Linked DNA regions of Homo sapiens: regions 2, 3, 4 and 5 are each linked to region 1. The links come from fine-mapping of genetic effects on gene expression. A gene starts in region 1. Each other region holds a variant in brackets. All regions are shown on one strand. Distances are between the middles of the regions. Region 1 holds the start of VLDLR (very low density lipoprotein receptor). Region 2 overlaps LOC101930053 (a long non-coding RNA gene). Region 3 overlaps VLDLR (very low density lipoprotein receptor). Region 4 holds the start of LOC101930053 (a long non-coding RNA gene). Region 5 overlaps VLDLR (very low density lipoprotein receptor).

Region 1 (6,153 bases):
GAGGGAATTTTCTTTCTATTCTTAGGCTAGTTGCTAGCCATATATGAATAGCTCTCAAAAAACCTTGGTTCTTTTAGACTCTGGCCTTAAAGAATATATCATACCACAGATCTTAATCTTGACTACTTAGGCTGAAGGAAAATGTCCCAGAACCCCCAGGAATTGTGCAATCAGGTATACCAACTTCTTGTTAGCCTTAAGTTCCTTGCCAGAGTCTCAGTGTTCACCTGTCTTGTCCAGGAGTATTGTGGAACAGCACCATGTGCCAGTGGACAGAAGGGGTATGTGTAGAAGCTCCAGGGTAGAAAGTCAGCCCACATGCCCTGAGACTTTGAACTTAAGACAGATGCCGGTTGGGATTGGTTTAGGGTCAATAACTGCCTCAGCCCAAATTTCCTCCAGTTCTGGAAGAATCTGCTTCCTCTCCTTTGAAGAATTTGTTTTTCCATTGTTCATGGCATGTCAAATATTTCACATGTGACAAAGTGAAAAGGATCCTCACCTGCCCAATACAAGGTGAACATCTGGCTTTGACTAACTCATGTCAGTAGTTTAGGTGCATTCCTAGCATTCTATAAGGTAAAGTTAACCTCTAGTGGAAGGGACATGCAGCAAAAACGAAACTTTTCTCTCACCTTCCTGGATAATTGTCCCTCCTTCTGGTATACCTTAGCGTTTTGAAATGTTACAAAAGGCATAATGCAAGTCATGGCACTATACTGAGAAATCGTTTAATAAGTTAGTATTACTCATCTATTAATGATTAATGCTAGCGTTTGGAAACTCTTGTAAGCAGAGCTTTTCTAGGCTCTCAGGCTTGTTACACATCAGATTCCATGTTCACTACACATTCGTCCTCTTCAAAGAGTCCAGGCAGGGGAAGGCATTTGAGAGAACAGCCCGTAAGAGCCTGTGGAGTCTCCTACTTTCCATTGAAAATAACACTGCCCATGCTGCCCACTTAAGAGTCCGCGGAACCATGTGACCAACCTAAACGTGATCGCACCGCTAACCAATCGCAGAGGGCGGAAAGGCCAGTCCCAGTTCACACGCTCCGGACAGTGGCAACCAAAGGGCAGGGGCATTCGGAGACGTAAAAACCCCAGGCGCTGCCCGACAGGCTCCTTGACCACATGCTTTAAAGTTCGCTCTCACTTCAGGAGCACGTGACTGCAGGCCGGCAGGGCCCCTGAAGCCACCCGGCGACGGGAGCCAGGGACTCTGGAACGGGTGTTAAGGGCCTGGGCGGCTTTCAGTCCCAATTCCCTGCAGCTGGCAAGCAAGCCCCTCGGCGTCACATCTGAAGATCACTTCGGGGACGCGCTAGGATTCCGACTGAGTCCTCTCAGAAAGGCTTCCTGTCGCCTGTCCAGGAAAGTTACGAGGCCCCAAGTGGGAACGTGGCTGACGACCAGGCGGGGCCCCCAGGCCCCCGCGGCAGAGTCTGGGGACCCGACAGTAGTCACCGCCGCCCTTCCCAACAAGACAGGGCCACACGCTCGCTCTCGCGCTGCTCCTTTGAGCTATTGTGTAGAATGAAGGCTAATTACAGTCACTAGCCTAGGACTCAATTCCTCTCGAGGAAACGTCACCGGGAAGGAGGGTCAGCAAACTAACCTGATTAAGTCTCCCCTCCACTCCCCCTCCGCGTTCAGCTACACGGGAGACCCGAGCGGTTTCCAAACGCCGCCCGAGGCGGGGAAAAGGGAGAGGAGAAGCGCCCAGAGCAGAGTCCTGCGTAAAGCCCCGCCGCTCCCCTACCCCGCACGCCGGAGAGGCGGCCCCGCGCCGGGGGAGTCGCAGTCCGGGTGCCCTCGGCTCCGCGGAGCCTCCCGGCCGCCGCCCACCGAACGTGCGCCAGCTCGCGGCCGCCGGAAGACTCTGAAGCCCGGCCGGCCCCTGGCGCTCCGCGTCCCCGGAGGCGCTCACCTTCTCCCCCCGTCCGCTCCCGCACTCCCCGGGGTTCGAGGGTGCGCCCGAGGCTGCCGCACACGTCTTGGCCCTCTGCCTCCTTCCCAACACTGCGCCTGGCAGAGGAGGCAGAACCATTGTTCAATGCTCAGAAGCCCACGCACCTCGGCGCCCGTCAAGAGGGCGAGAAACGAGGCGAAGCAGCGGCTCTGGGGGAGGCGGAGTGAGGGGCAGAAGACTAGTTCAGGCGAGGCGTCGGGGCACCCCGAACCCCGCTGTTCCCCAAGCCCGGCTCCCTTTAGCCTCGGCGCTGACAGCTCAGAGGCGCCACCACGGAGGGGAGGGAGGGAAGGCGAGGAGAACCGAGAGGCGCCTCCTAGGAGGCGGGTGGGCAAACGGAGACCTACGCCTCGGGGTCTCCCGGTGCCCCGGCTGGGTCCCGCCCGCCGGCGGAGGGGCGCGTCCTCACTCACCGGTTCCGGTGGCGCCGCTCTCCCGGGGCGCCCAGCACAGCGCGAGCAGCAGCCAGAGCGCCCAGAGCGCGGACGTGCCCATGGTGCCCGCCTGGATGGTGCCGCCGCCGCCGCCGCCGCCGCCGTTCGCTCCGCACGACAAGTTACCAGTCCTTCCGAAAGGAGGAAGAAGGTGGGGGCGGGGAGGGGAAAGGGGGAGAAGGAGGGGAAGGAGTTGGCGGGGGAAGGGAGCGGGGAAGAAGAGGGCACCCCCTCCCCTACAACTTGCACAGTCTCCTCCCCACCCACCCAGCCACCTCCCCGGGCTGCAGCAGCAGTGCAAGCCGAGCCTGCGGGCAGAAAATAATGCAGGCGCTGCAGAGGAGGGGAGGCAAGGGGAGAGGAGGGAAGGGAGAGGGGGTGGGGAGCCGAGAGCAGAAGAGAGCACAGAACGGAGAGGAGCCGGTAGCGGAGCACCCGCACCGGCGGCGGCCGGAGAGCGGGGTGAGCAGCGGGGAGGGGGCCGGAGGGGGCGTGGTCAACGGGAGGCGCGGCGGGCGGGCGGGAGCGCGGCGGCTTCGGCCCTCCTTTCCCTCGACGCGCTCCTCTTGCACGCGCCGGGCAGCCGGGTGCCCGCGCGGGGAGCGTGCGAGTGTGAGCGTGCGTGAGTGACCGCGGTCGTGGTCGTGGCTGCCGCCGCCGCCACCCGGACCGCTCTAGGGGCCCGGCTGCTCCGCGCGTTCGCCTGGGGCTCACGGGGGCCCGGGGCGACCGCTGGTTGGCTCGCGCGCCGCCCTCGCCTCCAATCCCGGGTGCCTGTCCTAATTTCCTGATCCAGGGAACCTGCCGCCGCAGCGGCTGTGCGCTCCCTACAGTCATTACTGTACCCTCCCGGCAGCCTCCGGCAGAACACGCAGCAGCAGCAGCAGTTAGCGCTGATGCAACTATCGTTGCTGTTGCCACCGCCTCCCCACTGACGGGGCGTGCACCTGGGGGGTACTTGCAGTTTCCAGGGGCAACAAGCATCTCTCTACCACCCTCTCCTGCGCCCCTGAGAGAGGCTGGTAGGTAGCATCTTCTTCGGGCCTCCTCTATCCACTCAGAAAGTGATGAAGCGGAGGGGCTCCAAACGTTTGGGCTGCTCAAAAGTGGGGTTTGGGATGCCGGTCTCAATCGCACGCTGAGATGCCGTTTTGCCGAAAACTAAATGTGTCTTTAAGTGAGAGAGTGTGTATGTTTGAAAGAGAGTGCGCGCGGTTGTGGCTGGTCCTCTGTAATAGAACAAGACTGAAATAACCCAGCCTGGGATGAGGAGAAGGGAAATTGCTAGCGCAGCTTTGCATTTGCTCATCAACGATTATAGTTAATTGCTAATTGCACAAAATGATAGTTTGAGGGCCTGTAATTAAAAGCTTAACCTTTTCTTGTTTGGAAGAGAGGGGCCCCATACGTTTATTCCTCTTGATATACTTTGTAACATTCAATTACAAGAATCGAGGAAAGAATAAAGGAAGCAAAGACAAGACTCCTAGAAAGGGTTGGTTCTTCTTTTGTGCCTGACAGTACCTGAGTCTATAATTTGCTTTTTGTGTACTTCAGTTTTCTTGCACACTTAGCCCTGGTTGAGGTGCATTGTCTGCTGTGGTCTGTTGAGCATCTAACCAGAGTGGGAGGGCACATCGAGCGATTTCACTTTCTTAAATAAAAGGTTTTTGGTATTTTGAAAAAGTTGTTTTTATCTTAATTCAAACTTGGAAGGTTTCAATAATATCATATTCTGACTCTATTCTGTTGGTGATCTGAAGAGCAGCGGGCACTGCCTCACTGTCTTCTCCTTGCCCTGGTTCTCCTGGAAATTTGTCAAGGCTAGCAATCAGAGGAGATGTTTATTAGGAACTTACTATATCCAGGAGACACACAGGAGAGGAAAATTCCAGTCAGGATAGGTTTCTGTGGGCCAAAGATATCCTGATTGTGACTGCTAAGCATGAAAGGGCTTAACTCTACGTATGGATGGTATCTTGCACTATAGCTCATTTTGAATGCTATTTTGCCCACCCTGTGGTTACATAGTTGATACAAACTGCAGCAGCCACACAGGTTGCATGTGAAACAACTGAAATTTGTTTGTATGACATTTAGTAGTGAAGATGCATGCCGGTGTTATTCACCTAATGGCATTGAGATGTGATAGGAAAACCTTAGTGCATGATGTCTTTCATATTCTCAGGGTTCTGAAATGCCATCTGATGAGCTACTGCTTTACAGAAGAGGAAAGGAGTAGAAGGGATGGGTGGAATCAATACAAAAAGAGGCAGCATTAATAAACAGTCATATGACTTGTTTTTAATACTTTACTCAGAGATACAGGTATACTACAAGCTATACATTGATATGGTATAATAAGACTTAACTTTGAAAAACGTGTGTGAGTACTTTCTAATTCTCCAAGGGATATAAATAAACTTTCAGTGAACTTAGCTGCAGCTCTGTATTCAATCCTGTAGCTTTTTTGTTGACTCAAAAGAAAGCATAACTTTTGGCTCCATCTCTGATTGACTGTGTAACTTGGGAAAAATCACTGTGCCTCTCTGTGTCTGCCTTTTGGCCTGTAAACTGAAAAGAAAGCCAAGCCACATTATATCAAAGTGCTCCGTGGCCTCAAGGACCAGCTCTCTGCAAGGTGTTGTTTATTAGAAGAAAAAGGTTGTATGGAGAAATTCATTGGATTATGATAGAAAGTAGCTAATAACTAAAAAGATAAATTGATGATAAGTGGATATTGAAGTGGTTGAACTAACAGAGCTAATTGATCATAAGTGGAGACTGAAATGGTTGAACTAACTGGGTTCAGAGAAGTTGACACTGCTGGATTCCCGACGCCGTCAGGTAAATGCAGAGGCAATCCCATTCACTCCTACAATCCACCACATTCATTTATTTGTTGAAGCAACACATAGTGAGCATCCCTGGCTAACGGGCACTGTGCAAAGTAGTGGGCATACAGAAGTGCTTATCTAGGAAGCTCAGCATCTGGTAGGGGAGGCAGGCAAGTGGGCAACTGTAGTACCCTATGTATAGCACTCTGATTAAGAGATGCTTAAAGTGCTAGAAGATTGCAAGGAAGAAGCAGCTATTCTGGCTGCAGGATGAAGGTATCAGAAAAGGCTTCACAGAGCGTTTGTCTCTGAGCTTTTTTCATAATTTTTACCCGGTGATCTGAATTCTCCCTACTTCTGGACACATGGTAGGATTGGACGTCCTGGCCCCCTTATGGTTGGATGGGGTCGAAAGACTAACTTTGGCTAATTATTTGTGAGCCTAAGTTACAGGGTGCCACTTTCAGACCGGAGCACTTAATTGCTTATGTGAAACCCTCTCTTTGTGTCTGCGTGGTGACAAGAAATGTTTAAGAGGTGGCTGCTGCATTAGCCCAGGTCTCCGAGTGATTCGATTCATTTAGAACTACCCATGTGAGTAGTTCCCTGCTGTCTATGTGTCTTTAGCACTGGTCACATAGAGTAGAGGTTAGCAAACTAGGGCTCATGGGCCAAGTCTAGCCAGTCACCTGCTTTTGTATGGCCTACAAATAAGAGTGATCTTTACATTTAAAAAGAGTTTTACAAAGAAGAGGAATAGTGTGCAACAGAGACTGTATGTTGCTCCCAAAGCCTAAAATATTTACCATCTAGTCCTTTAGAAAAAAAAAAAAATCAAACAAACTTGCCAACCCCTAACATAGAACGGGTGAGAGAGTAGTAAATCTTTGTCATCTTCATCTACTGAGATT
Region 2 (6,153 bases), 130 kb after region 1:
AATGAAATTTAAGAGAAGTCTTCCATATTGGAGAGGGCTTTTAATTTATGTGGAGTAGCTTGTTTTCAACTTTTGGTTTATTGTGGTGGGTGAGTGTACATGTAATTAATATTATTTACTTTGTTTTTCTCTATTTCAAAAAGTTCTGGCTCTTTCACTTAGTAGCTGTATAATTTGGGGAATGTTTTGTCTTTCATAAATGGATATAATAATGGTATATGGTATGTAGGGTCATTGTGAGGGCTAAATGAGATAATATATTTAAAAAGCATAGAACATCATTCAAGAAAAAATATCTGTCATTTCTGTCATCATAATTATCCTAAGTATGCATAAGCTGCTCTTCGTTTGAGCAGGTGCTAAATAAAATTCTACCTTCTCTCAAAGTACCTTCAGGTCAGTTAAGTTCAGCAAGCATTTCATGAATGCTCCATATATGTAAGGCACTGAAGATACACTGATGATATCACACATGTGACATTGACTAGCCCTTAAGCAGCATACTTTCTAGAAGGGAAGGCAAACCCAGAAACTGATTATTTCAGTATAAGGCTGTACTGTCCAACATAGTCATCAGCAGCCACATGTGTCTACTGAGCACTGAGAATGTGATTAGTTTGAATTGAGATGTGCTCTTTGTGTAAAACACACACTTGATTTTAACAAGTTATTATTGATAAAATAATGTAAAATATCTAATTAATTGTTTTAACATGGTGTCAATTACCCGTCAAAATGATAATTAGATCAGTTAGATATCGAGTTATATAAAATATACAATTAAACTGAGACGGAAGAATGGCATGAACCCAGGAGGTGGAGCTTGCAGTGAGCCGAGATCGCGCCACTACACTCCAGCCTCGGCGACAGAGCGAGACTCCGTCTCAAAAAAAAAAAAAAAAAAAAAAAAAAAAAAAAAAATATATATATATATATATATATATATATGTGCACAATTAAAATTAATTTCACCTGTTTCTTTAGATTTTTTTTAAAAATGTGGCTACTGGACATTTTAAATTTATGTGGCTCCTGTTATATATCCTTCCTTTTTTATTTTGAGACGGAGTTTTACTCTTTTGCTCAGGCTAGAGTGCTGTGGCGCGATCTTGGCTCACTCCAACCTCTGCCTCCCAGGTTCAAGTGATTCTCCTGCCTTAGCCTCCTGAGTAGTTGGGACTACAGGCACACATCATCATGCCTGCATAATGTTTTTGTATTTATGGTAGAGATGGGGTTTCACCATGTTGTTCAGGCTGGTCTCAAACTCCTGACCTCAAATGTTCTGCCCACCTCGGCCTCCCAAAGTGCCGGGATTACTGAGCCCAGTGGCTCCTGTTCTATTTCTATTGAACAGAACTGGTCTTATGTGACACAGTGGAGGTTAAAACAGGGTACAGGGGGAACTCAGAGAAGCAGCAGGTCATGCAGCCTGTCCTCCTCCCCGGGAGAGCAGGTGAAGCCTGTGCTGAGTGTTAAAGGATGAGCAGAAGTTGTCCAGGCAGAGCCAGGTCTAAAGGGCCCTCCAGATGAAGGTAACAGGAAAGGCATGAAAGACATGGTATTTCTAGGCACTGGAAGCATTTGGTTCTTCATAAAGCATTATGAATTAGGGACTGGCAGAAGATGAAGCTGCAAGAGAAGTGAAGCCTGGTCTTGCAATTCTTTAACATCTAGCTACCATTAAATGCTCTGGTCCTTGACTTATACATGACGTCTGGTTATTTTTCCACTATTTATTTCTTTGACGTTTTGGACTATCAGCTGCCGACAGTTGGAGGTTTACATCTACGAGGATAGACTTTCTTAGAGGATAGGACTGATGTATGCACACTTGCTGGTTGGCAGGCAAAATGTCATTTTTCCTCTGTAGATAATCCTAAAGAGTAGATGGGCAGCCTACAGTTGCTGCCAGGAGGTGAGTAAGAATGATGAATGAGAATCATAGGAAGGTGGGAGCCCTTCACACGGTCTGAATCATTGGGCCCAAGGAGACTGTACGTGGCTGCATTCACATCCATTTACCTGTCAATGGATTTCAGTGGAATCCCTCTCCTCCCAAATTCTCACTAATAAGCAATGTAGTCATTCATCAGATTACATTAGTTTGGAAGCTCATTATTCTATTCCAAACCACCCACAGGTCTTCTGCCTTTAATGAATTATGTATTCAGTGGGGATTTGGTAGGTCATGTAAGATTAGGTGAAAGAGGGGTAGCAACAGGAGAACCCAAGAACCCAAGTGGATGGAGAGGCTACAGTTAGAAGACCTCTTCCACATCTGCTTTTCACTCTTTAATGTGCATATAAGTCATGTTCTTTAGAAATGTAGATTCTGATGAATTAGATGTAAGGATGGGGCAACAATCTGCATTTCTATCAAGTTCCCAGGTGATGTCAGTGCTGCCAGTCATGGACTGCACTTTGAGTTGCCAGGTCTTAGAGACCTGGTGTCTACTACAGTCTCTTACCAAGGCTGGAATCTATATTGCAACAGCCCTAATGAGTCATTAGAAGCCCCTGCTGGAAGACCTCTGTTGTGTTTCACCTCCTCTGCCTTTGTGGAGTGAGTCTTATTGTTGGAACAGTTTGTCTTGTCCCTAGAAGCTATCTGGGCAATTTCTGTACATTGGTTCTTGTTCTATTTTTAGAACTGCTAAGAATAAGTCTAACACCTCTTTCTCTTGACAGTCATTTGGAAATTTGAAGAAAATTTTTTATATTACTCTTAACCCTTCTTTTCAGTGGATTAAATCTACTCATCAACTTAGCTGTTAAACACAGAACTCCCTGGCATTTCCCAGGAATCATGT[G/C]CCTTAAGTGCCCCTCTTCTAATTGAGCACAATGTTCCAAGCTTTCTCCAAACATGAAAGAATAAAATGGGCTTGTTACTTATCTAGCTATTGATTCCCTACTTCTGCCAGAGAATCCTCAAGCATCTTGGTTGTTTGGCAGCTACATTAAACCTCAGATTCAGAATGAAATTGGTTGATAAGAAAAAAGCCCAGTTTTTTTCTCACTGGTTGCCATAGACTCATCTAGCATTGTGGAGATGATTTTTTTTTTAAAGAAGCTGTGATTTTTTTTATTATGAAATATTTAGAAATTTAGAAATTATGAGCAAGCAAAATTACCATTCTTAATGTGTTGAAATATAAAAATCAATTTTTTTCTAGGCATAGGGATGATTGATTGCATTGATTATTGATTACATTTTATAAGGGCCTTGAACAATCTTTTGTGAACATGTTTCGAACAACATCATTTTTATTAGCTAGATGATATTTAATCACATTGAAATTTTTGCAATTTATTCAACCAGTTTCCTATTATTGGACATTCATGTTGTCTCTGATTGTTTTTTGTTATTAATCAGTGCGTTTGTAAACACCAGGTACCTAAATTTTATATACATTTTTGAAAATGGTAGGTTCCTATAAGTAAAATTACTGTGTTAAAAGACAGGATAATTAAGGTTTTTGAGCTTATTATTATAATCAGTCATATTGTCCTTTAGGAAAGTTTTAATAATAGAATGCATTATCACTAACAGTAATTTCACAGGACCAATCTGCACCCACATTCATTAAAAAACGCCTTTGACACTTTGATGAACAAAAACAAATGGAGTTCCATTGTTTTATTTCGCATTTTAATAACTAGTAAGATTGAACATTTTAAAATTTGTCTTTTGCCATTTAAATTTCTTCTTTGAGGGAATAAACTTTTCTATCAGAACATTTTTATTTTTCTTAATGATTTGTAATAGTTATTTAAGTGCAAAGGCTATTAATCCCGAATAATTTTCCCAATGCATGATTTTCTTTTTAGTTTTTTATTTCATTATGACTGGAATGTGTTCTGGATTGTGTCTCCTATCAGATTATTATTTTTTAAACATTGTTTTGTTTTTAATTTTTGTGAGTACATAGTAGATGTATATATTTTTGAGGTACATGAGATATTTTGGTACAGGCATGCAATGTGTCAAAATCACATCACGGAGGCTTGAGTATCCATCCCCTCAAGCATTTATCCTTTGTGTTACAAACAACCCAATTATACTCTTTAAGTTATTTTAAAATGTACAGTTAAATTATTATTGACTACAGTCCCCCTGTTGTGCTATCAAATACTAGGTTTTATTCATTCTTTCTAACTACTTTTTCTGGTACCCATTAACGATGCCCACCTTGCCCCAGCTCCCGCACTACCCTTCCCAGTCTCTGATTAACCATCCTTCTATTCTCCATCTCCATGAATTTAATTGCTTTGATTTTGAGATTCCACTACTAGATTATTCTTGATTTTAGGAAAGTTATATATTTTTGTGTAATAAATTAGTACAAAAGTACTTGCTCTTTCTGCCATAATGGCAAAAGCACAAAAGTAATTTGGTTTCTGCCACAATGAGAAAAACACAAACGGAATTACTTTTGCACCAATCTAATATGTATTACCTAACGGTGAGCTTGCTAAACATTCATATTCATGTAAATAGTTTTTAAATCTAATATTTGAATCCCATCTTTTTTTTTTTTTTTTTTTTTGAGGTGGAGTCTTACTCTGTTGCCCAGGCTGGAGTGCAGTGGTACGATCTCAGCTCGCTGAAAGCTCTGCCTCCCAGGTTCGTGCCGTTCTCCTGCCTCAGCCTCCCGAGTAGCTGGGGCTACGGGCACCCGCCACCACGCCCTGCTAATTTTTTTTTGTATTTTTAGTAGAGACAGGATTTCACTGTGTTAGCCAGGATGCTCTCGATCTCCTGACCTCGTGATTCACCCGCCTCGGCCTCCCAAAGTTCTGGGATTACAGGCGTGAGCCCCTGCGCCCAGCCCATCCTTTTTTCTTGTCTTGTTGCATTAGTTAGCAATTCCAGAACAATGCTGAATAATAGTGGTTATAATGGGCATCTTGATTTGTTCCTGAGTTTAATAAGAATAGCTTAGTGTTTTATTATTAAGCATGATACTGGCTTTTTGGTTTAGTTATCAAAGTAAATACATATTTGTTAAAGAAATGTCCATTTATTCTGACATTTTCACAATTTAAAAAATCAACAGTAGATGCTGAATTTTATTTAAAAAAATCTTTCAGCATCTGTTTATGTGAATGTGATGTTTCTCTGTCTCTTTCTATCTCTCAACCATTTTAAACTTAGAGGAAAGTTGTGAGTACAGTACAAAAAAACCTGTTTTTTTCTGAACAATTTGACAGTATGTTTTAAGATTTCATAGAGACTAGAAGTAGATTAGTGTTGCCTATAGATTAGGGGGTGTTGGGAGAGGAACTAGAGAGTGATGGCCATTGGGTGTGGGAATTCTTTTTGGAGGGATGAGAATATTCTAAAATTAGATGGTGTGGATTCCTGCATATCTCTGCAAATATGTCAATAAATTTTAAATTGTATACTTCGAAAGGGTGACTTTTCTGCGACTTAAGTTTTATTTCAATAAATCTGTTATTCAAAAATAAGAATTGTATATTGCATTTAGTTGTCATATGTCTCCTTCAATATGAAGCAATTGTTCACCCTTTTCTTAACTTTATCGGCCTTGACACTTAAGAATTACATGCCCGTTGTTGTATAAATGGATCTTCAATTTCTGTTTGTCTAATGTTTCCTCATTATTAGATTCAGGTTCTGCATTTTGGCCCAAATATCACAGGATGGATACAGTGTTCTTCTCATTGTATCTTACCAAATGGTTTATGATTTAGATTTATCCCATTACTGGTGATATTCAATTTGCTTGCTTAAGATGTTATCTGTCACGTTTCTGTCCCATAAAGTTAATTTTTCCCCTTTGAAATCATTTTGTTTTGTGGAAAGTTACTTTGAGTTTGTATAAATGTCCCACTTTTCTTCAAAAATTTGTTCATTTATATTGGTATGAATTCATACTTTCATATTTAATTTGTCAAGTTATGATCCATTATTGAAATTATCTATTTTAGTGTTCAAATTATCCTAGATTAGGCCAGTGGGAGCACCTTCAAACTGGTTTCTGTGTCCTTGTGGTATGTCCCCTTCATTCTTTGAGCACTTCCTTATTTTCTGGTAAAAGAAGATGCTCCTCCGGGTTTATCTTGTACTCCGCTTACCCCGGCCCTAGAATCATCTATTTTTTCCAAAAAGCCCTGGTCTTTTCAATA
Region 3 (6,153 bases), 24 kb before region 1:
TGTTAGTGCAAGAGGATGAGCTAGGAACTCCAGAGACTTTAGTACTATCCTACGATCTTGGCCATTCAAGTCCACGCTGGATAACATGTGCAACTTAGAATCAAGCCAATAGAGGCGACTTTTTATAAGGTCTAGGTAGGAAAAGAATTGTCATTACATGACAAGCCACTACTACTCTGGCTTCCATTAAAAATATCTAATGAATTAATAATCTACTTTCACGGTTCTTTCCCCAGCAGGGTTTCTTAACGGGGTCACCATAAACCTTGCGAAGCAGCATGCAGAGCCTGTATCCACGTTCATTTTTGGGGACTAACAGGGTACCTGAGATTCTCAAAGCAAATGACTTAAGAAATATTACTCACATTACAGAAAATATTAAAAGAGGCTACCATTTTGTTGTTCTCCTCCAAAAAGCCAGAAGAAAACTGTTAAAAGCCTGCAATTCAGGAAATGCTAAGGCACTCATGCCCAGAATATTTAGTATGAGTGCACCCAAGACCCAACGTTCACTGAATTTGTGTCACATATTAGGCCCAGCTGGACAACAGGCCAGTAATTATGGAATGTGTAATTTGTTAATCCACCATTTTACTTGTGTTGTTCAGTTACTCCCATTGAAAATTCCTGCTAGAATTTAGGCGGAAGCAGTAGAGTCATCTGCTAGTCCAGAATTCACCATGGAGATAAATGGAAACACTATGAAGATAGTTGAGTGGGTGGTCGAGAAGGAAGAACATACATACCAAGTGTAATTCCGTTAGGCCACTGGATATCCGCTGTCACCAGTGGACGTCTATCGAATCCATTCATTCCTGCTTTTTCTATTTTAGCTGGTTCACCCCAGTCTGACCAGTAAACAAAGCTGTGAAAAATTAAATGAGAAATAAGCCTCAGTGGTTTAGAAGGAATAAAGTTGTAGTAGCTGGAAACAAAAATTTAAAATTTGAGCAGAAAACTCAAGGCATTCTCTAGTGACAAATAGTAACACTTAAGGGTCTAAATTATGTTCTAGGTAAATAAAATTGAATATTAAGAATCTACAAGCTCATTATTAACTATAATAATCTATGTTTGTCTGACATTTAAATTTCGGCCCAAAGTCACAAGGTTATGTTTCCTTTTTAAAAGGTCAGTTCTTACAGAGGAGTGCAAGACGAACATCCTTCAAATTTCATAGCAGGGGTTGGCTGGCTGACTGAGTTCTAATGAGGCTGCACGGGGGCCAGTTGTGATGACAACTACAGCCTTAGTCAACTTCCTGAGCTGCTCTTCTATGTTACTTAGTGGCAATTTACAGAACCCCCTTAGTGAAATGTTTCTAGAAAGGTCTGTTTATTTCTGCTGGACTTTCAGACAACTTGCACACTTAGATGCAATGTGGTTACCCAAATCCTCACAATTCAGGCTGTCGTTTAGGTTTGATCATCCAGAGCTAGCCCAGCAAAGCTTTCAGTCAAAAATTAAAAAATCACTTGCGTAGAAACTGGGTGGACAAAAGGGTTCAGATACAGCTTTTGGTACACACATCAAATCAGGAATGTTAATTCATTAATGTCAGCCAGCAATCAGTCATACGAGAGTCAGACAGGAGGACCTGTCATATAGATAAGGACATCCCAGGGTCACTCACCTGGGGCAAAACTGATATCTTAAATTAGAATTCTAATTCTTTGTTGCAGAAGGCTCATAAACCTTGAGATTTGAGTACTAATTCAGGTATGAGAAAGCTCCTGACCTACACAGATACCATTCCAAAGTCTGTGATGGAAAACAGACTACAAACCCAGACAGTGGGTCCACAGCTATGGAGGCAGGCTCTCGCAAGTCAGAGTTAAACAGGAACTTCCTCTTGGTTCCATCTAGGGTAGCTACTGAAATAGTCTTAGAAGCCGCATCAGTCCAGTAGATGGTCTTGTACACCCAATCAACAGCAATGGCTGCAGGATTATAGACATTGTCGATCATTTTAACATGTCTACCAACCTTGTCATCAATTGAGGCACTGAAACAGAATAGGTCACAAGAAATTTAAGAGTTTGACACAATTAGAGCTTGGAGAATGGACTTTTTGCTTACAAAATGGTCAATGACTTTGTTCAGAAAGAAATCCAGTTAACACCACAGCTCACCACTCAAATTATTTAACCATGCTGCTTACTGATCCTAAATTAATAATGCTGTAGATTATCTAGTTGCTGGTATGTATTCTATATACAAGAACAACAAATTTCTAAGTGAAGCTATTTGTTTCAGTATCCATCATCTGAGTTTCTATAGTTCCCATTAAGAAAAGGCTGTACTACCATTTCTATTTGTAGCAACAATGAACAGTTCTCAATTAACTGTAGAGAAAAGGGAGAAAATATAAAAAATATGAAAGATGTCATCTTTTACTTCATAGACAATTGTTAGTTTCTAATTAGGAAGTGATAACAGTTTAATAAAGAATTAGCATTAGATTTAATGTCCCCAGGTAATTCGATGCTAGATGGGGCTAGACACAAAAGAAACTCCTCCAAACTATCCCACAGATCACTTCCCAAGTGACAATGACTTATGTCAAGACACCACAAAAGGAACTGAAAGTTACCTGAAGATAGCCTTTTGGCTTAGATCGGCCCAGAATAGTTTCTGGGCAGCAATGTCAGCATCGAGAGCCACAGTGTTTCTTAGCTGTTCAACTAGTTGGATATATTCTTTCCTCTCTAAGCCAATCTTCCTGATGTCTCTTCGATTAGTGAAGATCAGACTTGGCTCTTTGCCTGCAAGATGGAAGTCTGGGTTACTTAGTTTTGCTTTAAGAAGGCAAGGTCTTTCTAAACCACCTCCTCCCAGCAGAGGAGCACTTAGAAAATAAAGGTATTGTGGAATACCTCAGTAGTATCTGTTCTGGAGTTCCTGCCCCTGGGACCTGCAAGTGCTTCCTACAGTTTAGGAAGGCAGTCGTGGGGTTACAGCCTTCAAGAACAGGGTGAGTGATGAATAAGTCACTTGTTTGAGTTGGACTCAAGTTTTGGAAACAGAGCATGCAAACCTGGTAGGTATTCATGGTATCATATGCAAAAGGAATGATCAAGGTACATATCTAGGGGAGAGATCTGCTATTTGACCTATACTGCTGTATTATGAGGTTA[G/C]CAGCATTGTTCTCAAGTACAATTTCATGTTTAGTTTGACTATTGTAGTCACTGGCTGTACCTTTTAGAGGCACTTACTCATAAAGGTACAACAGCCATACCAGTCCAAGTTCATTTACCTACTGCCTTGCACACGCCAGTAGCAAGATCCATTTGATAGCCACGACTACATTCACACTTGTAACCGCCTTTTAAGTTGATACAAATTTGACTGCAGATTCCTGGATTTTGGCATTCATCAATATCTGGGAGGGAAATCAGAATTAGTCTTGCTGCTCCTATACCTTACTAGGTACATACTATCCTTTCCCATCACCTGCAGGGTCCAGGTTTTCTTCTTAGACTCACCTCCACAGGTTTTCCTATCTATCAGTTCAAACCCAGCTGCACAGTCACACTCGTAGCCTATAACTAGGTCTTTGCAGATATGAGAACATCCACCATTATTTACCAAGCATTCGTTTATATCTGGAATAAAAATGTAGTAGTCACTTGACAACTTATTTTCAATTAATATCTTTCACATTTAAAACCCAGGCTATTTGTGATAACTTATCTAGTTGGCCTGGTCAAACCCACGATTTGTCTAAGACCTAATCATTTATTTTATAGGTATATATTTCAGGGTGGATTATCTAACTCCTCGGCAAGTTACCAGCTGGTCAAGCATTTAGTCAAGTTTCTCTATTGATGATCAGTTATCTTTAAGGAGGTTAAACTATAAACTAGTTTGGGCCGGGCGCGGTGGCTCATGCCTGTAATCCCAGCACTTTGGAAGGCCGAGGCGGGTGGATCACGAGGTCAGGAGTTCGAGACCAGCCTGGCCAACATGGTGAAACCCTGTCTCTACTAAAAATACAAAAAAAAAAAAAAAAATTAGCCGGGCGTGGTGGTGGGCGCCTATAGTCCCAGCTACTCAGGAGGCTGAGGCAGAAGAACTGCTTGAACCCGGGAGGCAGAGGTTGCAGTGAGCCGAGATTGCATCATTGCACTCCAGCCTGGGCAACAAGAGTGGAACTCCATCTCAAAAAAAAAAAAAAAAAAAAAACAACAAAAACAAAAACTATAAACTAGTTTGTCCTACCTGGGCTTTTAAGTCATAAAGTTTCACTCTGAAGTCTACAATTGAACTTCAGTACATTCAAAAGTTTAACTAGCCATCACGGGGGGTCCACACAGTGTTAGCTATACTGGATTGTGTCAAACTTCCAGGATCTGTACTTGAACAACAAGTACACTTACGACACTCTTTCAGGGGCTCATCACTCCAGTCCCTGCAGTCCTGCTCCTGGTTACATACTTTGCTGATATCTATGCATTCTCCACTTCTGCACTTGAATTTTCCAGGGCCCAAGCACTGATTGACTACAAAGAGAAACAAAGAAGAGAGATTCCATGAGTGGGTCTGGTCAGAGCAATCCATTGCTTAACCAACAAGAAGAAACCCTTACCATTTTTGCAGTTGACTTCATCGGAACCATCGACACAGTCTCGGATACCATTACACTGCCTGCTGCCATGGATGCAGCTGCCATCCTCACATTCAAATTGGTCAGGTCGGCAAGTTCGAGAGGCTACAAAGGGAGGAAACACCATGGAATGAAGCCAGCAAATTGTCCCAGTTGATACAGGGAAGAGAACTGAACATGCCATGCTAGAAAGCTACTTACGACAGTTGACCTCATCACTGCCATCCTTGCAGTCAGGGTCCCCATCACATCGCCACTTCTTATGGATGCACTCGCCAGAGCCGCACTGGATTTCGCTGGCTGGACACTTGGTGTGTATGACTGGCTGACGGCCACACTGCTCCAGGGACTCATCAGATTGGTCGGAGCAGTCTGCATCATCGTCGCATACCCAGCTGATGGGGATGCAGGAGGAGGTGCTGCACTGGAACTCATGGGCGCCACAGGTTGGCGGGGCACAGTCCAGCTCATCACTGCCATCGCTGCAGTCATCCTGGCCATTGCATACAAAGTTCCTGGAGATGCAGCGGCCACTGGAGCAGGTGAACTCGTCGGGACTACATGTTATATTGCCTATTAAGAGAGAGGATGCCCCACTGAAAATGCATCAAGATTGGTCCGTTCAAGATTCTTGTCCCAAAATCTAATACATTGATCTTTATTCATTAATCCTAACTTACTAGCCCAACTTAAAGGCTACAATGGAGTTAAATCAAGAACTTTTGTACAGTCTCATTGTACAAAAAATGAAGGCACACAATAAATAAGAAGAACAGAAATAAAGAACCAAGAAAATAGTTGAAGACTGGAAATTAATTTGAGATGAGAACCACAATTGATTCTAAAAGTGGCCATCATAAATAACAAACTGTAACAAGGGATTTCAATTTGGAAGGCAGAGATTGAGTTGTCCTTGAATCAACATACTGCTTGTCAGATCTTATCACTAGTTGAGAATATCATGCAACGTAATACTCACAACAAGCATTAAGACTTTGTCACCAAAAGAGGTGAACCACATACCACCATATATGGTTCCTCTTTTTGGTCCTTTAAATAAGGATCAGGAATAACAAGTCTTAAACACTTTCCATTTTGAAAAAGTCACTGCCAGGGCTATAATCACCATTTAACAATCAGGTATGCTGACAATGATAAGCTAGTCCTACTAGCCAATTGGTACTTTGACTTAAATTCCTGCCAAATGTTTCAAGGTCACAATTTGGTGGCAATTAGAATAGAGACCACGACTCTCTTGGGAAGCAAAGTCTAGATTTATAAGGGAAACACTTGGCAGCACCAGGGCTTACCAATACAGAAAACCCAATTCTAGGATTGAACACTAAAACTCATTGGACTAGGTGCAGTGGTATTGACCTCAGGAGGCGACTTCTACACACAAGACTGGTGTTTCAACTGTAAGTGCCCTGAGCTCCCTTGACTACTACCATATCAGGAGGCCCATGCTTGTCAGACTTGGGAGCTGTAGGTTTTAGAGGCCCTATAAAAAGGGCAGTAGCTTGAAAGAACATTCAAAGCACTGTTTG
Region 4 (5,610 bases), 130 kb after region 1:
ATGGATCCATCATTCTCAGCTGCAGCTCCTACACTCTCCAGGAGACTAGCTTCCCTTGGAATGGGGTCAGCCCTGCTCTGGAGGGACTGGGAGAGCATTCAGCTAGCACACAAATGCTACAGGACCACGCTCCAGTTGCCCCCTCAAGTTATGACTGCCCCTGTTGACATTGTCTAGTGCTTGAGAGTCCCCTGTGTAGAGACCCTGCAGAGAGGCAGGAAGCCTGCAAGGGCCCTGGGCTGGTCATACCTGACATCAGTTTCAAGTGATACTTATCAGTGAAGCAGTCACATGAGATCACAGGGCTAGAAGATCCCTCAAAGGTCACAATGTCCTGCATTCCTTGTATGTCTGGCTTAACCCAGAGCAAAAGTGTCAGAATGCTACCACCCCAACATCTAACAGGTTGCCTGTGAAATGGGATATCCACTCACCTCTGGTAGACAATCCAGTTTTCTTTTCTCTAACACTTGAACTTGCTGGCCATTGGAACCACTATAATTATAATAGATGTTAGATTTCTTGTGTGAGTGATGGGATGTGAGGAACGTGATTGTTCCACTTAGAAGAGTAAGGTTGCCTAGAAGTACCCAACCTGCCATTTAGAAATCCTGGGTTTGGTTTTCCTACACCCCGAACACAAAACCACAAAATACCAAAGTTGGAGGCAACCTTAGTGATTAATATCCCTCCTCTTACAGATGAAAAAAAAAAAAGGAACATGACCTGACCAAGGTTAATAATAATACTGCAAAGGAAGGCTCTTTGGGATTCACATGGCCCTGTCATAGGTGTTTATAGAATTTGGTTGTAATGTGCCCTCTGACTTATAGGACGAAGAAAAAAAATCCTTGCATGTCAACAATATGTGCCATCAAAGTTCTCCATGCCTCTGTCTGGTTTGATTCTCACCATCCTATGTAGTGGGCATTATTTTTTCTCATTTTACACACAAGGAAAACAAGGCCCGGAAAGGTTAAGTCCATTCAGTTAGTAAGTGGCAATCCTGAGCTCAGGCTTCAATCTTCTGCCTTTTATTCAATATCATTTCCAAGTCCATCTCCACTTTGATTCTCTGGGGATTGAGGGTATAGTGGAAATTAGCCATAACTTGGGTAGGGCAAGATATATAGGAGCTCTAAAAGTCTCTACCCTATTCTGGATGCAGATACTGTGGGTTGCTAGAAATTCTAAAGAAAGGATTCTGAGTTTTAGTGACTCACCTTCATTGGCATGTAAATACTTCCCTCTTAGAACCACTGTAGCTGGAGCAAGGGCCTCATGGCTGCTAACATAATTTGGTGCTGTCATCTCAGCAGCTGCCTTTCCTTATCTTAAATACCACCTCCCAGGATAGTGTGGCACTGAAAAGCTCAAGCTGTTAGAATCTGCTGGCTACTCCAATTCCTGGTTCTGTCGCTTTAGATGACCTGAGCGATATTATTTAAATTTCCTGCATCTCAGTGTTTCCATCTATAAAAGGGAGCTAGTTATAGTACCTTCCTGAGAAGGTAAAGACTAAACGAGGTAAAAAACTTAGGAGAGTAAAGTGCTCAATAAATACTAGCTGCTGCTGCATTTGCTCTTGAGACAACCGAAGGAATTCTGTCACAGAGCTGAGTTTTCACCAGGAGTACAAAAGGAATATGTTCATAGTTCATGGACTCGGTGGGCATGCCAGGGTGACAGGTATCCAAAAGACAGAATCACATACAGTTTACTTCTTTTTTTTTTTTCAGACGGAGTTTCACTGTTGTTGCCCAGGCTGGAGTGCAGTGGCGTGATTTCAGCTCACGGCTACCTCTGCCTCCCGGGTTCAAGCAATTCTCCTGCCTCAGCCTCCCAAGTAGCTGGGATTACAGGTATGCACCACCATGCCCGGCTAATTTTGTATTTTTTAGTAGAGATGGGGTTTCTCCATGCTGGTCAGGCTGGTCTCAAATTCCCGACTTCAGGTGATCCGCCCGACTTGACCTCCCAAAGTGCTGGGATTACAGGTGTGAGCCACCGCACCTGGCCCAGTTTACTTAACTCCGGGGAATGATTGCTCGGACCTTATACAACAAGGGTTATCTTCATTTTCTGCCAGTATCACCCCTCTGCCCCCACCCCCCTCAACAAAGCAGAAGGCTTTAACTCACCCACCTGAAAAGCTAAAGCTGAGCTGGAAGTTATGATTATGTATTTATTTAGTCTGAAAGAAGGAACAGAAGAGCCTTTTATATAACTTGAAGAGTGTAAAGGAGCCAATGATAAAAAACATTGCCCTGAACTTTTCCAAAGCACCATAAATCTCTCTGTTATGATTCTCCAGTTGTTGCCAAGGTATCATTTGTCTTTTTGTTTTTGTCTTCAGATAGACGAAAACAAACGTTAACGAACTTCCTTCTGTTAGTTTGTGTATCTGTGATCCAAGGCTATAAAAATGCTACTCTTTCAAGTTACTCCCATCATTTAAAATACACCTGATGCTTATTTTGTGGTTTCTCAGTAATATTCTGATTTTAATTTGATTGCTTTTTATGTTTGTGTATTTTCCCATTCAAAGCTGTTTTTTCTCCCTTCCCTCCCTTTTGTGTTTCTCTCTGTCTCTGCTGATATTTTTTGCATGTTTAGATCATCTCTCTACTGACCTTTTAGTGGCTTAGCATTTTGTTGCA[A/C]TGCACAAGTGAAGTTGGGAAACAGAGCCAAGTGACAAGCTGTGAAGTAACAGCTCAGCCTTCACAAAGCAAATGTGCTTTGTGCACTTCCTTGCCAGAGCAGATGTGGCCTTGGTGGACTGTGGGGAGCATCATCTCTCAGGTAAAAATAAATTACTAAGATTAGGACCAAATGATGCAAATCCTTTCATTTGCAAACAGATCATGAACTGGCAGCCATGTGGAAAGAAGACTAGACTGCGAATCACTTAGGATCCCACCCTCGGTTTAGTCTAGAATACTCTGCGAATCAGCTTTTTGGCCCTAGGTGAGTGATTTTAAAAGACATTAAATGTGCAAATGCATAAAATGAACTCACGTAGTTCATGGACACAGGTGACATAGGAAGTTAATCAACAAAAAAATAGAATGAAATAACAAAACTCTGTGTCCCAACACCCAGTCTGAGGCAATCCTAACATTTTGATGGGTTTGATTCAGACATAGTTGAAGTTCTTTGCAGACTTCTTAATCCCATTTCCCTTTCTTCCATCCAGAGATAAACACTATCTTGCAGGTACATGCTTTCAGACCTTTTCTGCATGCACATGCACCTTTCCACAATATGTACTGTCATTTTGCATTTTTTTAAAATTAAAATAAATGGAAGCACACCACACATATTCTACCATTTGTTTGTTATCTAATTTAGCATAAGATCTCAACGATTTAGCTCTAGTTCATTCATTTGAACTGCTTTGTTTCATGAACAGACCACTATATATTTATCTGTTCTTCTGTTGATGAACACTTAGATTGCTTTTAATTTTACACAATTATAAACAATGCTTCAGTGAGTGTTCTTGTACATTTCCTTCTCCTAACATACAAAAGCTTCTCTACAATAGCATTTTTCAAAATGTTTTGTCCACACAGCTACATGGAAACCCAGCACATACATGTGCTACATTTATGTACATGTATGCATATATGGAACAAAAGTTTCTCAGAATAATATTTATCTTTATTTTCTACTTAATTCTAATTCTATTTATTTTATTTTATTTTATTTTATTTTATTTTATTTTATTTTATTTTGAGACAGAGTCTTGCTCTGTCGCCCAGGCTAGAATGCTGTGGTGCGATCTCAGCTGACTGCAACCTCTGCCTCTCAGGTTCAAACCATTCTCCTACCTCAGCCTCCTGAGTAGCTGGGATTACAGACACATGCCACCATGCCCGGCTGATTTTTGTATTTTTAGTAGAGACAGGGTTTCACCATGTTGGCCAGGTTGGTCTTGAACTCCTGACCATAAGTGATCCGCCCACCTTGGCTTCCCAAAGTGTTGGGATTACAGGTGTGAGCCACTGCTCCTGGCCTACTTATTTATTTATTTTTGAGATAGTGTCTTGCTGTGTCACCCAGGCTGGTGTGCAGTGGTGCAATCATGGCTCACTGAAGCCTCGATCTCCAAGCTTCAAGTGATCCTCCCACCACAGCCTCCTGAGTAGCTGGGACTACCAGTGTGTGCCACCACGCACAGCTAATTTTTTTTTTTTTTTTTTTTTTTTTTTTTTTTAATTTATGGGATTTCACCACATTGCCCATGCTGGTCTCAAACTCCTGGGCTCAAGCAATCCACACGCCTCAGCCTTCCAAAAGGCTGGGATTACAGGTGTGAGCCACCACACTTAACCTCTAATTCAGTTTAACCTGGACTATTTCATACACCATTTTAATTTAGGAAAGGGTTTTATGACCCAGTGATGCATCTTCACTGACAAGTTGAAGAACAGTTCTGGGATACATACATAGACATGGACCTGCTGGATCATAGGTTGTTCCCATTTTCAAACTGATAAGTTTGTCTACGTGAGTTCATTTTATGAATTTAAATGGATATTTGTATTTAGCTAGCATTCCATGTATTTCTAGAAGGAGGCTTTCCAGGTTATTTAGTTTGCTGGAAATGGAAGTCCTGTGTTAAACGTTCTGGGTTTCAATTTTTTATCTGTCACAAGAAACCACACACACAAAAGGTAGTAGACCCTTCCGTATTTTGTAGGGTCCTTTCTCTGCAGCCCTGGGGAGAGTTATGGGGGTCTGCCACAGTGTGGGTAAGTTGTGGGGTAGAGGTAGACACAGGGAACGGGAGAGAATGAGTAGATGGAGTTCTGGGTCTTTTACCACAGTCCCTACCCAAGGAGCTCCATTTTAATATTGATCCATTCTGTATCCATTAGATTGAATTGGCAAAAGGGTTGTGTAGCTTAAAAGTATTCTTAAATGGTGGGTTTAGATGTCTTCCAAGGCTCTTTCCAGATCTAAACAAATGGAAGTAATTTTTAAGTCTCTGGACCATTTAAAATTGCAGCCAGAATTAAAGATGGCTTATGGTATAAAGTTTCGTGAGTAGGGGCTAGGCAAACAGTGTTTGTTTATCTGAGTGTCAATGTTCTCTTCCTGCCACGTAGAACCTGGCTTGGATGGGATGCTTTTGGCATCCTTGAAGGCAAGGAGTTAGGTGCGCCCTCGGGCTGGAGTTGCCCCTTTGAGGGCAGCCATTTCTGTGCCGTCGTATTGCCTTCATGGCAGGAAGCTGCTTTAAAAAACTACTTTGTTTTCATTGTGTTTGTTTAATTCTGTGAATAAGGCTCTAATATAAATTTTTCTGAAATCCATTTCAGCCCAGCACACTGTTCCACATGCTTATGATAAAGCTCATTTGCTCAGCAGGGTACTCGGTTAAACCTTTATATTCATAGGGATGACATTTTATTATCATTTTAATGAAAATATTTGCTTCCTCCTGGGTTTATTTTTGCCTTCCCAATATAGGAAAAGCATTAAAAAAAAAAACCCCACCAAAAGATGGGGTAGCAACTTGGTAGTAAAGTGAATTAGGGGTGGGCATATGTTAATTAATTTGTATAGGATCCTGGACCCCTTTTCTAATAAATACCCTCGCCT
Region 5 (6,153 bases), 33 kb before region 1:
AATTCTAGAAGAGAAGTCATTATAAGCCCCTTCTGGCCTTAGAGACTATATAATACCAAAAATACCTAAAAACCTTTTCTTTAAGAGAGTGAAATCGCTTGATGTGCCCTCCCACTCCGGTTAGATGCTTAACAGACGACAGCAGACAATGCACCTCAACCAGGGCTAAGTGTGCACACTTGGCCAGCAGCCGCCAACAGAACGGGCAGCAGCAGCAGTTAGCACTGACGCAACTATCGCTGCTATTGCCACTACCATCTCCCCACTAACAGGGCTTGCAGAATATGTAATACCCAGGGGATTATATATATGTGGTTTTTAGGCACCGCCTCATCACCCACAATAAGGGAAGCTTCTTTCTACTCTTTAGCTAGTTGCTGCTCCTACTTGTTAGGAGTTTGATGTATCAGACCCTTTTGAGAAATGTCTATGTCACAACTACGTTCAGGATAAAACAATTATGAAACTGAAGGGCTCAGATTTGGGGATCAAGATTAGCAGGTTGTATTCATAGTACTTCAACTTAAATTAGCAAAAGTATATCTGCTTTTTGCAAGTTTTTGCCACCATTGAAAGCAAACAGTATAGCTTTCATTTGGATTCAAAATAATAAATTGTTTTACTTGGGTAAGATTTCACTAGTAAGAATTCTAGGAAATTATTCCAGTTAGATTACGTAATAGAGATAAGTGACCCCTAGAATCTTTAGGTTTGGGGTAAAGATTGTTAAAAGGTAGACTTTAAGTTGGTCTACCATTTCTACAGTGTTCTTAACTGAAGAGTTAGTCTTTTAATACCCTGTAGTTTGCTATTTAAAGCTTGGCTTCTCATTTTTGAGAAGGGCTACTTGACTTCCACAGATACAAGGAACAGAAGCAAATGCCAAAGTGAAAGCCTCAATTTTTTTTTTTTTTTTTTTTTTTTTTTTGCCTTGTATTCATCAAGAACTAAAGAGGCAGCGATACCTAGGCTTTAAAACACCTACTAGAATGTTTTAAGGGAGCTAGTTGAACAACTGGGACTATTTTTTTGCCAAATAGATTAGCTTGCAAAGGGCACTTAAAAATTTGGACAGAGGAACTTGGCTGGATTTCTTTACCAGAGGCCACAAATCTGTTTATTCATCTATCATCAATCTTTGTGGCAATTCCTAAAATTTCTGGAGGGTCCACTTTCACTTTGTGTGACAGGCTCATCTAACTCCAAATATTCTCCTTTAGTGTATGATAAGCTTCATATTTTACCTCTTAATTATCTTCTACATTGAACTCTAGAGACAGAGCAAACTTATCCTAACACATTTCACATAGAATTCAAGTTATTTTTTGGGTGATAAAGCCGAGGCCTGTTATCATTCATGCACTATTATTGCAAGCTGTATTGACTAGTAGTTTAGTCATATAACTATTTTTTTCTTTTATTTTTATAAATTTTTTTTTTGTAGAGACAGGGTCTCACCATGTTGCTCAGGCTGGTCTCGAACTCCTGGCCTCAAGTGATCCTCCTGCCTTGGCCTTCCAAAGTGCTGGGATTATAGGCGTGAGCCACCATGCCTGGCCCACCAATATATCTATTCTTATTTCAATAGGAATATCTAGTTACTTTGTTTCTACAAATGAGTTTGTACCTCGTAGGTACAATGAGTTGTACCTTGGCTTCTTACTGGGGAGGACGTGGTAAAAAAAAATGAGACGTTTTAGACTCTTTGAGGGTTGGAAATTTTACCCAGAACATGAAAGAACATACTAGGGACAGGAATTCAAAAGATGATGATAGAGAATAATACTTTATTTGCCAAAACAAACTTTGGGCCTTATAATTAATTAATACTGTATAATCCTTATAATGGGGAAAGCAATAGTATCAAACTTCAAGCTTCTAAAGGGAATTTGGTATTACTCCAGTTAAAAAAAAAAAAATCCATGTTTTTTGTACCACAGCAGGGTCAGAGCAGCAGCCAAACTCTGAAATGGCTTTCAGAGTTCATGATGAATGCTAACCTACTTACCAAACAGGCACTTCAGCTACTCACTGTCAGCAGGCCACATCCTGTTCAGTGTGATGACTAAATGTAGAGTGAGGAAAAGGTGGAGAGCAGACAGTTCTATATTCATGACTACAGCCTTTTCCTTCTACATGCTTGACCTCCAAACCTCCCATGAAAAAAAAGTCCAAGGCTATCTTTTCTTTTTCATTCAGTTGACCAAAATCACAAGGGGGCATCCCTTAAGACAACAGAACCAACTTCCCCTTCATCTAGTAGGATTAATGTCCTTGCTTAAGCCACAAACAAGATGTTAACTGCCTTATATTTCATATGCAAGTGAAATATGAGTCATCCACTGATTCACGTAGCAACGCAAAACATCTTCTCTTCATCCTCTTGGTACTGTGTTGGTCGGTCATTTAATTCCAGAGGAATTGCTGTACCTTCCACAGCCAACTCTCCACCTCACTTGTGACACACAGCATGCACCCGGTGCTTCAAGTCTTTTGTCTTTCCTTGCTTCCAGACATCCTGAGACTTTAGAGAAAGAAAGTAATGGCCAACCTGATGGAAAATTCACTAAACTCCCTGTACAATTTTTTCTTTGTCTCAAACTCCTCATCTGCTCTTCATACTGTAAGTTCCAGAAATTGTCCATAGTAAGAATCTGCCCCATCCCAGCCAGGATAAAAATTTAGGTGATATTGCAATTATATTCTTCATGAAGTCACAGTAAAACGGTGGTTTTTAAGCTTTAGTTTACATCAGTATCGCCTGAAGGGCTTATGAAAGCAGGTTTCAGCCCTCGCCCCCAGAGTTTCTGATTCAGTAGGTCTGGGATGGGGCTGGGAACTTGCATTTCTAATACATTCCCAGGTGATGCAGATGCTTCTGTTCTCAGGACCACACTGAGAAACCTGCCTTAGACTGTTCAAGAATGCCATTGCTTGCTATCCTCCCTGGCCATCTTCACAGTAAGACAGTCTAGACTTTCATAAGAAGAAAGCCCTTATCCATGCCTTAGAAGGCACTTGTCCTTGACCTATATAAATGACAGAACATGGAAAACAGAGACTTAACTATAAAGAAGCAGAATTCATAGAAATCTTAGCACGTGTTTCTCGATCAGGAAACAAGTTAATGGAAAAAAAAGAAACTCACTCCTCTAACCAAGAGGAATTCTAGGTACAGACTAAGCTAGCTTCTTTTACACAGTAAGAAATATTTCGGGAGCAAATGTTAAACAGTACTTCATTTTTTAACTGT[G/A]CTAGGGTGTAAGAGAAACCAGCCCAATTACAGGCTTAGTTATACAACATCAAGAACTACAGCTCACACATTTAGTTAGAACACTTGGTACTACTCAGGATAGGAGTTCATCCTAGAGGAACAGGCACAAACCATGGTTAAGCTGCTTGGTTTAATTTTTTAGCACTTGAAAAAAAATGTACAGTAGTTTGAACACTCAGTCTTTGCAAACCTCCATTGAGGTCAAAGATATCATTCATACGTACAAAATTAGTTTATAAATTTTTTTGGCAATTTCATCTTAGTAACCCGTTTTGTCCTATTGCCATTGTCCCAACCATTGAAAAAGTTTACAATAATTTACATAGAAATATTTTCAAAGTGCTTAAGAATAGTGATTGTTCTCTGGGATATTTACAGATGGCCTATACAATGTATGTACAGGTGGTATACACTATAGCACAAGTTTCACTGCTGGAATATGGCTTTCTAGGGAAAGTGCATATTTGGCCAGAGGTGGCAATACTGTCTAGAAATTCAAGGGTTACAGATACTCGGTAACCACATCCAAAGCTGAAGTAGAATGTGGACAAGAATATTTACAAAAGTAATATAAAAACGGTCAAGTACACAAGCTTGATCCACGCAAAGGTATCTTGATGTTCTTCCAGCCGAGAGGAAGAAAAAGAGACTTCAGCTGCTGGCTCGGTTACCATTCCGACGGGGGTATTATTTGTTTAGACCTCAAAGGTCAACATTTGTCACAGAAGTCAAGCTAGATCATCATCTGTGCTTACAACTGATATCTGTGGAAAAGAAGAAGTATAGAATGAGCTTGGTGATCACTCACTGATGGCAACTCTAGTCTTTAAAATGGACCTTGCTTTTGAGTTGGTCATTCAAACACTCAGAGTGCTTAGAAGAAAAGTCAGTCAGATACAAAAGAATACTGAGTTGTATCATTCATGCATTTAACTTGAATTCAACTATACCTGCTTGGTAGTGAGATAAGATAGTGTGACTAATTCTGTCTTTTCTACTTAATGATCATAAGTCTTGGGGAAAAATGTGAAAAGCCATGTGTGTGTCAAGAATTGACCACTGTTCCATGTTTCACCGGAGTTTGAGAGGGGAGTGATCAATACTTGTTTTGTTCAGCCTGTTTCCTACGTGAAGGCCAAATACTCCACTTGGGTTTCATCTGAAGAACAAGTGAGTGACTATTGCTGGAAGAAAAGCTAGCTATACTAAGGGCGGTGGGATACCTTTTTAAAGCAAAGCATATAATAATTTTGGCTAAGTGAATCTTACTCAATACACTGACTTTAAGCCAACTCCCCTATATATGATATGCTAATTTACTTTCAAATATCCAGTAGGCAATGGATTTAATAGTTCAGTAATGAGCTACTTGGTTCATGCTAGTATTTACATGTCATTTCTATAACCAAAAATATCTTAATATAGTGGTGACTTTAAGTTGACCCACTTGTCAGTTGGTGAGGGTTAGATGCTGATCAACTGAGTGACTTATGTTCTAACAGGCTATACTGTCTGTCTAATAGCCAGGTAGCAGATGAAGTGTTTGGTAACTCCATCATCCTAATGGCTCTCTCTCTCTCACCCAGGTCTCCTTTCTGAAAAGTCTCACTTCAAGCCATGGTGTATAAAGACACAAAGCTGACTTACTGCTGGGTACGTGTGTCCAACAGAAGCACTGTGTCTACCAATGTCTATGGAGAGGTCCTCTTCAGTGGTTTTCAAGTACACAGGATTGTCAAAGTTCATGCTTTTCATGTTCTTGTGTTGCCAATTCCGCCACATCAAGTAGCCACCTACTGCTGCCATCACTAAGAGCACTGAAAAAAATCAGAGGGTAGCTAAGTGAGCTAAGTCTAGTATTGGAACATACAAGAAAGGTAATAACGTTCAGGAATCCATAATAATTGACATTAGTAAAAATGCCATGTTTTATGGAGCTAGGATAACTAGAAGTTGGAATACACATGGGCCAGGAGCTTGAAACAAGTTCAGCCCAGAGGTAGCTCTGTGCACTGGAGCTGGACTAGCCACATCCATCCAGGCAAGGGCAGGGTCCTCGGTCCCACCTTAGGCTCACCAAATTAAAATTGCAGAAGGTTCTGGAGAGCTATTCAGGTGGTCCTGGCGTGTTAGCTAAGCTTGGGTCTCTTCATTTAGGACAAAGGTTTTTATAGCAAAGTCCTTAGAATTTGCGTGTCTCGTTTAGAGGTCCTTTTCCATAGGTTTGAAAATTCTTAACTGCTTTTAATTTATCCTCAACAAGTCCTGTAACTCTTAGCATTTAAGCATTTGTGCATCTCCTCTGTATGAAGCATTACACACATTTCAAAGGGGGAACAGAACAGTACACTAGTTAAAGAGACTTATTATAAAAGGGGATAAGCCAGGTTAACAGTGCGGAAGTAGAAAGCATTAACCGTTGAACACTTATCATTGCCAGTTACTGTGCCAAAGGTACAACTGAAGAGAAAGATATGGGCCTTAATTTAGTGTATTATGTGGGGGAGAAAGCGAACGTAATTCAGTGTCATAAATGCTAGACAGCATAAAGGCCCATGAAAGGGGTAGCTCCAGATGAACAAAAAATCTTCATCTGGTATCTAAGAAGTTCTTGAACCCAGACTTGTAGGAAATCTACTTACAGAGAGGAAGAATGGCCCATGCGGCAGAAGTCCCTTTTGGGGGAACACTGACCTCTGATACTGCTGTGGTCACATTGATCCCTACAGAGGAATAAAAGGAATCAGTTTAGAAGGATCTGTATTCAGACTTAGAAATTTACCCATCAGGTAAGGAGCCAAAACCTTTGCATCCAATATTGATGTTCAGTATCTACAACAATTGAACACCAGGAACAACTCTGGCTTAGAAGTATTTGA

What was found. PIP is the estimated chance that this variant, and not a neighbour inherited with it, causes the effect.
Region 2: its variant is fine-mapped to the expression of VLDLR in esophagus muscle (GTEx, PIP 0.90).
Region 3: its variant is fine-mapped to the expression of VLDLR in whole blood (INTERVAL, PIP 0.97).
Region 4: its variant is fine-mapped to the expression of VLDLR in lung (GTEx, PIP above 0.99).
Region 5: its variant is fine-mapped to the expression of VLDLR in whole blood (INTERVAL, PIP 0.99).

The regions. Positions count from the first base shown.
Region 1 is chr9:2,618,503-2,624,655 of GRCh38, reverse strand. It overlaps VLDLR (very low density lipoprotein receptor), which reads right to left and starts at 2,869. Exons shown (of 19, transcript NM_003383.5): 1 at 2,385-2,869. The coding sequence starts at 2,466. VLDLR-AS1 (VLDLR antisense RNA 1) reads left to right here and starts at 2,283. Exons shown (of 4, transcript NR_015375.2): 1 at 2,283-2,556. RefSeq lists silencers at 1,735-1,824, 1,835-1,924, 2,195-2,464, 3,075-3,154 and an enhancer at 3,033-3,327.
Region 2 is chr9:2,483,563-2,489,715 of GRCh38, reverse strand. All of the region lies in intron 2 of LOC101930053 (a long non-coding RNA gene), which reads left to right. Among named protein-coding and RNA genes, the nearest start is that of VLDLR, 140 kb to the left of the region's middle. The variant G/C (reference allele first, on the strand shown) is at 2,814.
Region 3 is chr9:2,642,186-2,648,338 of GRCh38, reverse strand. VLDLR (very low density lipoprotein receptor) reads right to left here. Exons shown (of 19, transcript NM_003383.5): 5 at 4,808-5,179; 6 at 4,589-4,711; 7 at 4,380-4,502; 8 at 3,486-3,605; 9 at 3,257-3,382; 10 at 2,594-2,765; 11 at 1,787-2,005; 12 at 747-865; 13 at 1-131. Among named protein-coding and RNA genes, the nearest start is that of VLDLR-AS1, 23 kb to the right of the region's middle. RefSeq lists silencers at 2,506-2,565, 2,576-2,625. The variant G/C (reference allele first, on the strand shown) is at 3,138.
Region 4 is chr9:2,490,432-2,496,041 of GRCh38, reverse strand. LOC101930053 (a long non-coding RNA gene) reads left to right here and starts at 1,821. Exons shown (of 6, transcript XR_001746603.2): 1 at 1,821-1,862; 2 at 2,617-2,967. The variant A/C (reference allele first, on the strand shown) is at 2,661.
Region 5 is chr9:2,651,718-2,657,870 of GRCh38, reverse strand. It overlaps VLDLR (very low density lipoprotein receptor), which reads right to left. Exons shown (of 19, transcript NM_003383.5): 17 at 5,917-5,997; 18 at 4,922-5,091; 19 at 1-4,038. The coding sequence ends at 4,003. LOC105375957 (a long non-coding RNA gene) reads left to right here. Exons shown (of 3, transcript XR_929436.3): 3 at 4,861-6,153. Among named protein-coding and RNA genes, the nearest start is that of VLDLR-AS1, 32 kb to the right of the region's middle. The variant G/A (reference allele first, on the strand shown) is at 3,254.